Linked DNA regions of Homo sapiens: region 2 is linked to region 1. Evidence: fine-mapped expression QTL. A gene starts in region 1. The other region holds a variant in brackets. All regions are shown on one strand. Distances are between the middles of the regions.

Region 1 (5,362 bases):
ATCCCTCCCATCCCCCTCTCATCACCCCCATCATGTTCCCCCCAGGCCACCTCCCAATCCCCTCTCCAGGACCTCCCCAGGCCCCACTGGGCCCCACAGCCACAGGAGTCCTTCAAAACGCACATCAGGCCGGATGTGGGTGGCTCACCCCTGTGATCCCAGCACTTCGGGAGGCTGAGGAGGGAGGATCACTTGAGGCCAGGAGTTCGAGACCAGCCTGGGCGACACAGCAAGACCCAGTCTCTTAAAAAAAACTTTTTTTTTCTTTTTTTTTGAGACAGAGTCTCGCTCTGTCACCCAGGCTGGAGTGCAATGGCACGATCTCGGCTCACTGCAAGCTCCGCCTCCTGGGTTCATGCCATTCTCCTGACTCAGTCTCCCGAGTAGCTGGGACTACAGGCACCTGCCACCACGCCTGGATAATTTTTGTATTTTTAGTACAGATGGGGTTTCACCATGTTAGCCAGGCTGGTCTCGAACTCCTGACCTTGTGATCCACCCATCTCAGCCTCCCAAAGTGCTGGGATTACAGGTATGAGCCACTGCACCTGGCCATTTTTTTTTTTTTTTTGAGATGGAGTCTCACTCTGTTACCCAGCCTGGAATGCAGTGCCGTGATCTCAGCTCACTGCAACCTCTGCCTCCTGGGTTCAAGCGATTCTCCTGCCTCAGCCTCCCGAGTAGCTGGGATTACAGAAGCGCATCACCACGTCCGGCTAATTTTTTTGTATTTTTAGTAGCGACAGGGTTTCGCCGTGTTGGCCAGGCTGGCCTCAAACACCTAACCTCAGGTGATCCACCCTCCTTGGCCTCCCAAAGTGCTGGGATGACAGGCGTGAGCCACTGTGCCCAGCAAGAAATGTAGTCTTTAAATAAGTAAATTGTATAGTGCATAATTTCCTAATAAAGCTGTACAAAAATTATTTTAAATCAATCATAAATATAAAAGGATTGATTTCATAATGTAACGTAAATCAGCTCAAAATCTTCTCTGAATCCCCATCATGCTTTGAAAATCAAGTCCCCGCTTGCGGGCCGGTGCAGTGGCTCACGCCTATAATCCCAGCACTTTGGGAGGTCAAGGTGGGCAGACAGCCTGAGGTCAGGAGTTGGAGATCAGCCTGGCCAATGTGGTAAAACCCCGTCTGTACTAAAAATACAGAAATTAAGGCCGGGTGCGGTGGCTCACGCCTGTAATCCCAGCACTTTGGGAGGCCGAGGCAGGTGGATCACGAGGTCAGGAGATCGAGACCATCCTGGCTAACACGGTGAAACCCCGTCTCTACTAAAAATACAAAAAATTAGCCGGGCGAGGTGGCGGGCATCTGTAATCTCAGCTACTTGGGAGGCTGAGACAGGAGAATCGCTTGAACCCGGGAGGCAGAGGTTGTGGTGAGCCGAGATCGTGCCATTGCACTCCAGCCTGGGCAAGAATAGCAGAACTCCATCTTAAAAAAAAAAAATAGGCCGGGCGCGGTGGCTCACGCCTGTAATCCCAGCGCTTTGGGAGGCCGAGGCAGGCGGATCACCTGAGGTTGGGAGTTTGAGACCAGCCTGACCAACACGGGGAAACCCTGTCTCTACTAAAAATACAAAATTAGCCCGGCATGGTGGCAGGCGCCTGTAATCCCAGCTACTCGGGAGGCTGAGGCAGGAGAATCGCTTGAAACCAGGAGGCGGAGGCTGCAGTGAGCCGAGATGGCACCATCGCACTCCAGCCTGGGTGACAAGAGTGCAAGTCTAGCTGTGCCTGCAAGCTGCCTGCACCCTGGGCCTTTGTCTGTCTCACTTAGCTGCCTGCGTACCTTTCCCCCACCGGCTTCCTCCCTTGGTTTATGCTCGTCTCCTGCAACGGCCCCCCACCCGCCCTCTTGCCCTCCGTGTTTCCTCCGCTCTGCACAGTCTCATGCCTGGCCTGTCTCTTCCAGTCAGACAGGAGGGCAGGCCTAGAACAGCACGAGCCCTGCAAATACGGATGGATACACAGAAGCACGGGAGAAAGGAAGGAGGGATGGAAGGAGGAATGGATGATGGATGGATGGGAGGGAGGAGGGAAGGAGGGGGGAAAGGAAGAGAGAGGCATGATGGATGGATGGGTGGATACATGGAAGGAGGGAGGGAAGGATGACGGGTGGAGGGAAGGAGGGAGGTTGAAAGGAGGGATGGATGATGGATGGACGGGTGGGTGGAAGAATGGGAGGAAGGAGGAATGATGGGTGGATGGACTGGCGGAGGGAAGGAAGGGGGAACGAAAGGAGGGAGGGAGGGATGGATGATGGACCCATGGGTAGAGGGATGGATGATGGATGGGTGGGTGGAAGAATGGAAGGAGGAATGATGGGTGGACGGACGGGTAGAGGGAAGGAAGGGGAGATGAGGGAGGGAGGGAGGGAGGGAGGGAGGGATGATGGACCCATGGGTGGAAGGAAATAAAAATGGGAGGAAGGATGATGATGACTGACGGCTGGATTCCTACCTCTGTCCATCTTCTTGGGTCCCCAACTCATCAAGAGCCCCTGTCACTCAGTCCAGCTGGAATGCAGGGGAGCCGCCACCCACCTCCCTTCTCCCTCACTGCTGGGCACCTAGTCCCAGCCAAGCCCTTGGTGGTGGCAGGCAGCCAGCGGGGATCGAGTCCCAGCTCTGCCCTCCCAGCTGGGCAGTCCTAGGTCAGCATCTCCTTCGCCAAGTCTCAGTCTCCTACTCTGCACCTCGGGTGTGAGCGTGACCCCTGCCTTCTGGCTGCTGCCGGGAGGATGGGCGAGGTGAGCCGGTGGACACCACACTCTCCCACGGTCCCGGGATGTCCACTCGGGGTGAAGCGTGAGGAGCTCGGGATGCCCCAGGCCTCAGTCCCCCTCCAAACAAGGATGAATCTCCGCTCTTACACCCAGGATGTCGGCGCCCGCGCCCACCCCTCCCATCCAGGGACCCACCGAGAGCGCTGGGCCTCAGTGTCCCCCCTGCATCCCGGCTCCCACTCACCTACTGACAGGGCCCCCAGGGCCAGCACCAGCAGTGAAGACACGCAGGCCTCCATGCCGCTGTGGAGACCCAGTGTGGGTGCTGGCCCCGGCCCCGAGCCTCCCCACACGCGCTTCCTGTGGGGGAGGTGAGGTGACGGTCACAGCCCCGCCCACCGCTGCACACCCTCCACCCTCCATCCTTGAGCATTTTAGAAAGTGTTTCTCAAAGAGGACTCGAGATGAAGCCACACTACCATCATCACACCTGACAAAGTAACACTTTTTTTTTTTTTTTTTTTTCAGAGATGGAGTCTCGCTCTGTCGCCCAGGCTGGAGTGCGGTGGTGCGATCTCGGCTCACTGCAAGCTCCGCCTCCCGGGTTCACGCCATACTCCGGCCTCAGCCTCCCGAGTAGTGGGACTACAGGTGCCCACCACCACGCCCGGCTAATTTTCGTATTCTTAGTAGAGACGAGGTTTCACCATGTTGACCAGGCTGGTCTCAAACTCCCGACCTCAGGTGATCCACCCACCTCGGCCTCCCAGTGCTGGGATTACAGGCATGAGCCACCGCGCCCGGCCACTACTTCCTGCCTCTGAATTGGTCTCTAGGGACCTCCCAGGAGTGGAATCACACAGGACCTGTTGCGTTGGCGTCTCTCCCAGCATGACGTCCTCAAGGTGCATCCAGGCTGTGGCCTGTGTCAGAGCCTCGCTCCTTTTTGTGGCTGTGTCACATCCCATTGTGTGGCTGGACCACGCTGTGTTTATGCATTCACCAGCGGACGGATATTTGCGCTGTTCTAGTTTTTGGTCTTCATGAATAAAGACACTGGCCGAAGGCGGTGGCTCACACCTGTAATCCCAGCACTTTGAGAGACTGGGGCAGGAGGATCGCTTGAGCCCAGGTTGGGGCTGCAGTGAGCCGTAATTGCACCACTGCTCTTCAGCCTGGGTGACAGAGCAAGACCCTGTCTCAAAAATAAATAAATTTAGGCCGGGCGCGGCGGCTCACGCCTGTAATCCCAGCACTTTGGGAGGCCGAGGCGGGCGATCACCTGAGGTTGGGAGTTCGAGACCATCCTGGCCAACATGGTGAAACCCCATCTCTACTAAAAATACAAAAATCAGCTGGGCATGGTGGTGGGAGCCTGTAGTCCCAGCTACTCAGGAGGCTGAGGCAGGAGAATCACTTGAACCCAGGAGGCGAGATCGCACCACTGCACTCCAGCCTGGGCAACACAAGACTGTGTCTCAAAAACAAAACCAAACCAAACCAAGCAGCTATGGATGATCCTGAGACCTGGGTGTGGCTGTGCCAGTAACACTTCACTCACAATAGGGGCGGACGCCAGGTTTGGTCCCGAGGGCCATGGTTTGCTGAGACCCCAGGGCCCCATTTTCTGTCCCAACTTGGTGGGAAACCTCATCCTCACAGCTCCTCGACCCTGAATCAGCCACTGAGCGACTTTCCGGGTGCCCAGAAGCGGAACGCAGGCAGGTTCCTGGAAGGCGGTGCCCCGGGAGGGCATGGGAGCTCCGAGCTTTCCTCCATGACATGTAATAAAACGATGCTGGGGACTTCCTGACACCAGGACGTGAGGTGCCTGCCCTGTGTGCCCAGGGCCACGGCTCCCCACCCCGAGGGTGTGCCTGGACGGAGCTGGAGCCGCCGGAGTGCTGATCGGGGGCATCTGTGGTCCTGGGAGCCCTGAGACGCTGAGATCAACGCCCAGGCGGCTGTGGACCCGCGACGAAGCTTTGCTGGATGCCTGCAGAGGCAGCTCCCGTCCCACTAGATGCACCTGGTCACAGGGAGGAGGAACTCTGGGGGCTTTCTGGCCGCCCCTGTCCCGCAGGCTGGGGGATGCTGCCCAGGCCTGTCTGACCCAAGTCATGGGAACGTACAGGCCGCGGGACCCGGCTGCTCCCCGTGCCTCCCAGGACAGGCCTCCCAGATCCACACCTGGCGTAGCCAGGGTCCCAGTGGGACTGGCCGTGTGCAGTCACTCATGGACGTGGAGGCTGCCTCTCCCTCCCAAGCACAGCTTCTCTGGCCTCTCATAAAGTAGTTTTATTTAGATTTCAAACAAACCAAAGCAGGGAAAAGAGTCGGCCACGGTGAATCCGTCCACTCTGTGCTGGACGTGGCTCCAGGACCTGGAGCTGACAGGCAGGACCGGGCCCCTCGGACCGCTACACCTGGGCCTCCCAGGCTGGTAGTGTCAGGAAACGGCCCCCCGCCCACGTTCCCAGCAGCGCCCCCGTGGCTCCTCCGGGGTGCGGCCAGTCCGGAAGCTGGGGGACCCCGGTAGAAGTCGGGCTCAGCTCCCCTCCCGAGGGGACAGGTGGGCCGGCCGCTCCCACCCTGGGCCCGTCCACCGAGCCCCGAGTGAC
Region 2 (5,362 bases), 38 kb before region 1:
CACCACTGCGTACCCCAGTGCTTATTAGATGCTTGTTGGATGAACGAGGACACTAAATGCTGAGGGCAGGTGTACAAAGCTACATGCTGAGTGGTTATACTTTTGTGAATCAGGTTTACGTTTCTGTGTGCAAAGAAAAAAGATGAAGTTAGTGCCCAGGGGTGAGGGGCTGCTTTCTCGGGCGGACGACCCTGCACGGACCCAGGCGCCCCATCTGCCGGTAAGCACCCCAGGAAACCTGCCCGTCTCCCAAGGCTGCCCTGACCTGTAACTCCCACACCTCCCACCCGGTACAGAGCATGAGGCGTCCACAAGCACGGTGGGCCCACACCTGGGGCTGAGGGTGCGGCAGAAAGATGGACAGAGCCCAGGCAGGGAGGTGGGGGGAGACCTGAGCCAGGGGCCCACCTGGGCCGCGTGCCCGGCGATGTCCCCAACGCGCCCCTTCCCCATCGTCCTGTTGGCAGCCTCCATCCCACTGGACCTTTCTGCCTGTTGTCCACGCACACCCTCCAGCTCCAGGTATACCACAGGCGCCTAATCAATGTCTGCACGCAGACGTGGCATCCCTATTCACAGGTCACTGAGCACACTTTCAGTGGGTGATGCCTGGGACTCTGCGGTCTCAGCCGAGGAGGAGGGGCCGTCAGGCTGCCCGGGCAGAGGGGCTCCAGGGCCTGCCCCACTCAGCGTGGGCGTGCAGCGCCGCCTGGTGGCAGCCGGCAGGGAGGGCCCAGCTGTGGAACCCAGCAGCCCCCACCTAGCAGGGCAGTTGCTGCCAGGGACCCTGAGCCAGCCTCAGATCCTCCAAGGCTGTGCAGCACGAGGACCAGTGGGCAGCTCCGGATGTGGGCCCTGCAAGTCCACCGCTGGCCCAGCAGGATCAGTGCCGGGAGCAGCTGCCGCCCGGGGCCCGTCACCGTGTTTATTCAACTCCCCCTTTGCGTAGCCCTGTGAGGCCGGAGGCCGTGAGCCCTTTCTTGGCTTCCGTGGCATGAAAACGCTGGATTTGCCCAACACGGAAACACACTGCCTTCCCATCTTCCCATCTGATTCCTAGCTTCTCTGGGAACCCACCCAGGCTCCCTAAGCCCCCACTAAGCCTCTTTTGCTGACCTCCACCCTGAGACCCCCGCTCAGACCAGCAGAAGGCCCAGTGCCACACTCGGCCTGCAGGGCTGACACAGCCGCTGCAAACCTCCCTCCAGACCCAGTTACTGGTCCTGCAACTTGCAACCTCCACGCTCTAAGCTCCTGGTCCCCCAAGCTCTCCAGCCCTGCAACCACATCTGTTCCGTGTGCTGGGCGGGCAGGGGCTGGGCATCCCTCAGCCTCTGGGCACCAGCTTCACACACCCACTCTCCAGGAGCAGCCAGGACCACCCCTGAACCTTGCCCAAGCAGCCCGCCCAGGTGGGTGGGTGCAGGCAGCTGCAGGGCAGGCAGCAGAAAGCCTCAGCCTTTGTCAGGCCCAAAACATGCCGAGAGGAGTAACAGGCTCAGAGAAGGCTCAGGTCAGTGCCCACTCTCTTCTGTGTGGCTCTGAGGCACGGGGTCGGCCCCAGCCACCTTCCAAGTTCCCAGTCCGGCTGACAGCCTCAGGCCCTGTCCAGCCCATGCCCCGAGCCACCCAACACCCACTGCGGTCTCAGCAGACCCGTCCTCGCATGTGAAATCCCAGTACTGGACGCACCCCTGCTGTGACCACCAGAGCCCAGGGTGCACCTGCTCTCGGAAAACCCAACCCCGTCAGGCACAGACAGGAGCCAGGAGAGGGTGAGGGTGGAGGTGGGGGCGATCTTTATTGTGGCGGTGGGTGGGAGGGGGGTTCCCACGTGAGCCCTGGTGCTATAGAGAGCCGGCCGTCCTCCAGGGGTGAGCTGGGGAGGCTTCTGCGGTTCTGGAGTCCCGGCGATGGCGCCAGTTCCCCAGCAAACCCCCTCCAGAGCTGCCCCCGGATGCACAGACAAGGAGGGGGCTTGGGAGTGACTTGAGGCTGTGACGGGGTCGCCCTCGGTGTGGGCAAGTGAGTCCTCTGTGGCCAAGAGGTCAGAGTCGTCCCTGAGGCTGAGTCGAACACAGACCCGTGGCCCTCATAAAATTAAACATAAAAGCACAAAAATGGCGCAACCAGACAGCATTGGCTTCAGACAGGCAGGACACGGGGCCCCTCGTGTGACCTGTGACTTTCCACAAAGGGCAAGGACCTGGCACTGACTCCGGCCAGTGGAGAAGGCTGTGCCGCCCACCCGGCCATGACTCAGACCCAGAGGCTGAAAGCCACAGACGGGGCCGCAGGGCAGCAGCTCCCGGGCTCTCGTGAAACACTTCAGAAGGAAAAAAACCTAAGGAACAGAATCCTGAATGGAGAAAACCCAACTTTTTTAAAAAAGAAGGAAGTGTATGATGGGAATCTACGGGGTGGGTTTTCTTTAAGAGGTGAGAACTTGGAATCTTGCAAGCACTGGGAGTGGACTCCGGCGGCGGCGCAGACG[T/C]GGAGCAGGGAGCGTCCTCGGGCCACCTGTGGACAGGGAGGGGCGCTCAGACTGGACCCACCTCCCAGCGACCCACAGGCGGGACCCAGGAGCCCACACCTGGCTAGCAGATCCCGCCCACCACACCTGGCTCAGGAGTTCCCGCCCACCCACCCACCACACCTGGCTCAGGAGGAGCTCCCGCCCACCGCACCTGCCTCAGGAAGAGTTCCTCTGGCGGACGTTCTTGCCTTTGTCATTCTGGTGCTGCCCGCTGCTCTTCCTGGGGCACGAGGGGCCGGGTGAGAGGGTGTCCCCCGCAAGTCACTCTCTCCAAGTCACCCCTGCCCACCCCGGCCCCCAGGACCCCCGAATACTGAAGCCCAGGGGCTCTGCCTTTGTGTTTTAAAGGCCTGGGGCAGCAGGCCGCTCCTTGGGACCCCCGACCCCCACAGCTGGAACTTACAGGGGTGCAGAGCCGGCGTCGTCATCTGAAGAAGGACCGCCGCCATGAAAAAGAGGACGAGAGGACAGCCTGTCAGCACTGGCCCCACTCAGGCCCCGAGCAGGGGCATCTGTGCTGCCAGCCCTGCCCTCAGTGACCCCCAGGGGTGGCTCGGGGCAGCTCATCAGCCCCGGCCACGTGCATCTTCTGAGTGCTGTGGGGAAAGGCAGCCCTCCCCACCTGCAGGTGTGCTCCCCATGGTGAGCTGTCCCCATGGCCTCGTGGGCCTCACCCCTGCCCCACAGCGTTTTCCAGGAGCTGCCATCACAGGCCCCACACAGGCCTCGCCCCGGCACACGCAGCCCAAGGGGCAGAAGGGCTCCGCGAGGAGGCAGGCAGGGGCTGCCGGAGCACAGCATGGCTGACCTCAGGTTCCCGAGCCTGATCATGCAGAGCAGCAAGGGCCGGCTCACCACGGAGGACACTGGCTTGCAGCCAAGTGAGCGGGAGGGAAGGGCCGGGTGAGGCTGTGGGGCGGAGGTGCCGCCTCCTCCTCCCGGGGTCCCGCTGCCCACTGAGCCGCAGCTGCCCGGGGCTAGACCCTCCATCCCACACTTTCTTTCGGGGTCCCATCAACTCCCTGCCTGGGGCTCCTCAGTTCCAAGCTCTGGGTCAGCGGTGGGGCTGGCAGGGACGGACCAGGAGTGGCCCTGGGCCACCCCGAGAGCAGGGCATGTGGGCAGGAGGGCAGACGGCTCACCATCCAGGACGTCCTCGGGCTTCCGGCGCTTCTCGTAGATGAAGATGATGGTGACCAGCACCAGCACCTCAGCCACGATGCCCAGGAAGGGCCAGAGGGCGGCCAGGTGGCTGCGCACGCGGAGCGTGATGATGGCCTGGTCGGAGCCCTTGGAGCTGGTGCCGTTGCACCGGTACTGGCCGGGGTCGGCCTCCATGTTCAGGTTCTCAATGTGTAGCTCTGACCGGCCCTGCGAGGAACTCACGAAGAACCTGCTCTCGGAGCCGTTCATGAGGGCCTAGGGGACCAAAGGCAAGGGCTGAGTCCAGGACCCCCAGTCTAGGCCCCTCACCCAGTCCTGAGGGCTGAGTCCGGGACCCCCAGTCTAGGCCCCTCACCCAGTCCGGAGGGCTGAGTCCGGGACCCCCAGTCTAGGCCCCTCACCCAGTCCGGAGGGCTGGGTCCGGGACCCCCAGTCTAGGCCCCTCACCCAGTCCTGAGGGCTGGGTCCGGGACCCCCAGTCTAGGCCCCTCACCCAGTCTGGAGGGCTGCAGTCCAGAGGGCTGGGTCCGGGACCCCCAGTCTAGGCCCCTCACCCAGTCCGGAGGGCTGGGTCCGGGACCCCCAGTCTAGGCCCCTCACCCAGTCCGGAGGGCTGGGTCCGGGACCCCCAGTCTAGGCCCCTCACCCAGTCCTGAGGGCTGGGTCCGGGACCCCCAGTCTAGGCCCCTCACCCAGTCCTGAGGGCTGGGTCCGGGACCCCCAGTCTAGGCCTCTCACCCAGTCCTGAGGGCTGGGTCCAGGACCCCCAGCCTCCTTGGCTTCTCACCTTGTCCTCAGAGTCAGTGATCTTGTACCAGGCCCAGTCAGTGACAGGTGGCACGGACTCTGACTTGCAGACCAGCATGGCCGTCTCCCCCTCGTTGATGTGTTCTGACGACTTCACAGCCTTCACTCTGGGAGGCCCTGACAGGAGGGTGAGAGAGAGGAGCCTGGAACCGCAGGCCCGCCCCCATCCCCGGCCTCCCGCAGGAGGGCTGTTCCCCTCCAGGGAGCAGGGGGCCAGGGCTCTGGGATGTGCCGGGTGCCTCAGGCCAACAACTTCTCCCGACAGTCGGTGGTGCCCGGTACCCCTGGCTGCAGGACTCACCGTGGAGCTGGATGTTGGCCGTGCCCATGGGCTCGGGGAGGAAGACGCAGGAGTACTCTCCCCACTGGTCGTCGGAGTCCACCCTGCAACCACAGCAGGCAGGTGAGCCGCGTACCAGCTCTGCAGGACGCCTCCAAGGACCCAGGGTTCTCCAGGGGCCCAACCACGGCACAGTGAAAAAGCAAAACTGTCCCAGTCAAGTCTGAACCTCAAAAGAACTCCTGGGGTCCCCGTGCGGCCCCAAGGACAGAGCCAGGCTGGCAAGACCCCACAGGTGAGAGAACCAACAGACCCCCTTCTCCCCGACTGATGAACCCCACACCTCTGGTCCCTGCTCTGCACCCCACACCCTGTGACCGTCTTCCCAGTCAGCCTGAAAACAAAAGGCTCTGTGCTCCCAGGGCCGTCCCAGCCCCAGTTATGACAAAGCTCCGGCCATGACAGCGTCTGGGGTCCGAGCAGGGCATGCCTCAGTGTGGTGCCCTCTTGTGCCAGGAGCACAGAGCCTGGGAGGCCCGCACACGTGCCCGGGACCTGGCAGTGTGGCGCCCTTT

The links. PIP is the estimated chance that this variant, and not a neighbour inherited with it, causes the effect. A credible set is the group of variants that fine-mapping cannot tell apart.
Region 2: its variant is the best candidate, but not a certain one, in a credible set for the expression of GZMM in whole blood (INTERVAL, PIP 0.68).

The regions. Positions count from the first base shown.
Region 1 is chr19:541,750-547,111 of GRCh38, reverse strand. GZMM (granzyme M) reads right to left here and starts at 3,059. Exons shown (of 5, transcript NM_005317.4): 1 at 2,986-3,059. The coding sequence starts at 3,040. It overlaps CDC34 (cell division cycle 34, ubiquitin conjugating enzyme), which reads right to left. Exons shown (of 5, transcript NM_004359.2): 5 at 5,025-5,362. RefSeq lists an enhancer at 3,046-3,691.
Region 2 is chr19:579,908-585,269 of GRCh38, reverse strand. BSG (basigin (Ok blood group)) reads right to left here. Exons shown (of 9, transcript NM_001728.4): 4 at 4,809-4,891; 5 at 4,488-4,624; 6 at 3,679-3,955; 7 at 2,940-2,964; 8 at 2,688-2,756; 9 at 1,777-2,520. The coding sequence ends at 2,693. Among named protein-coding and RNA genes, the nearest start is that of HCN2, 7.3 kb to the left of the region's middle. RefSeq lists a silencer at 527-796 and enhancers at 769-1,330, 1,331-1,893. The variant T/C (reference allele first, on the strand shown) is at 2,495.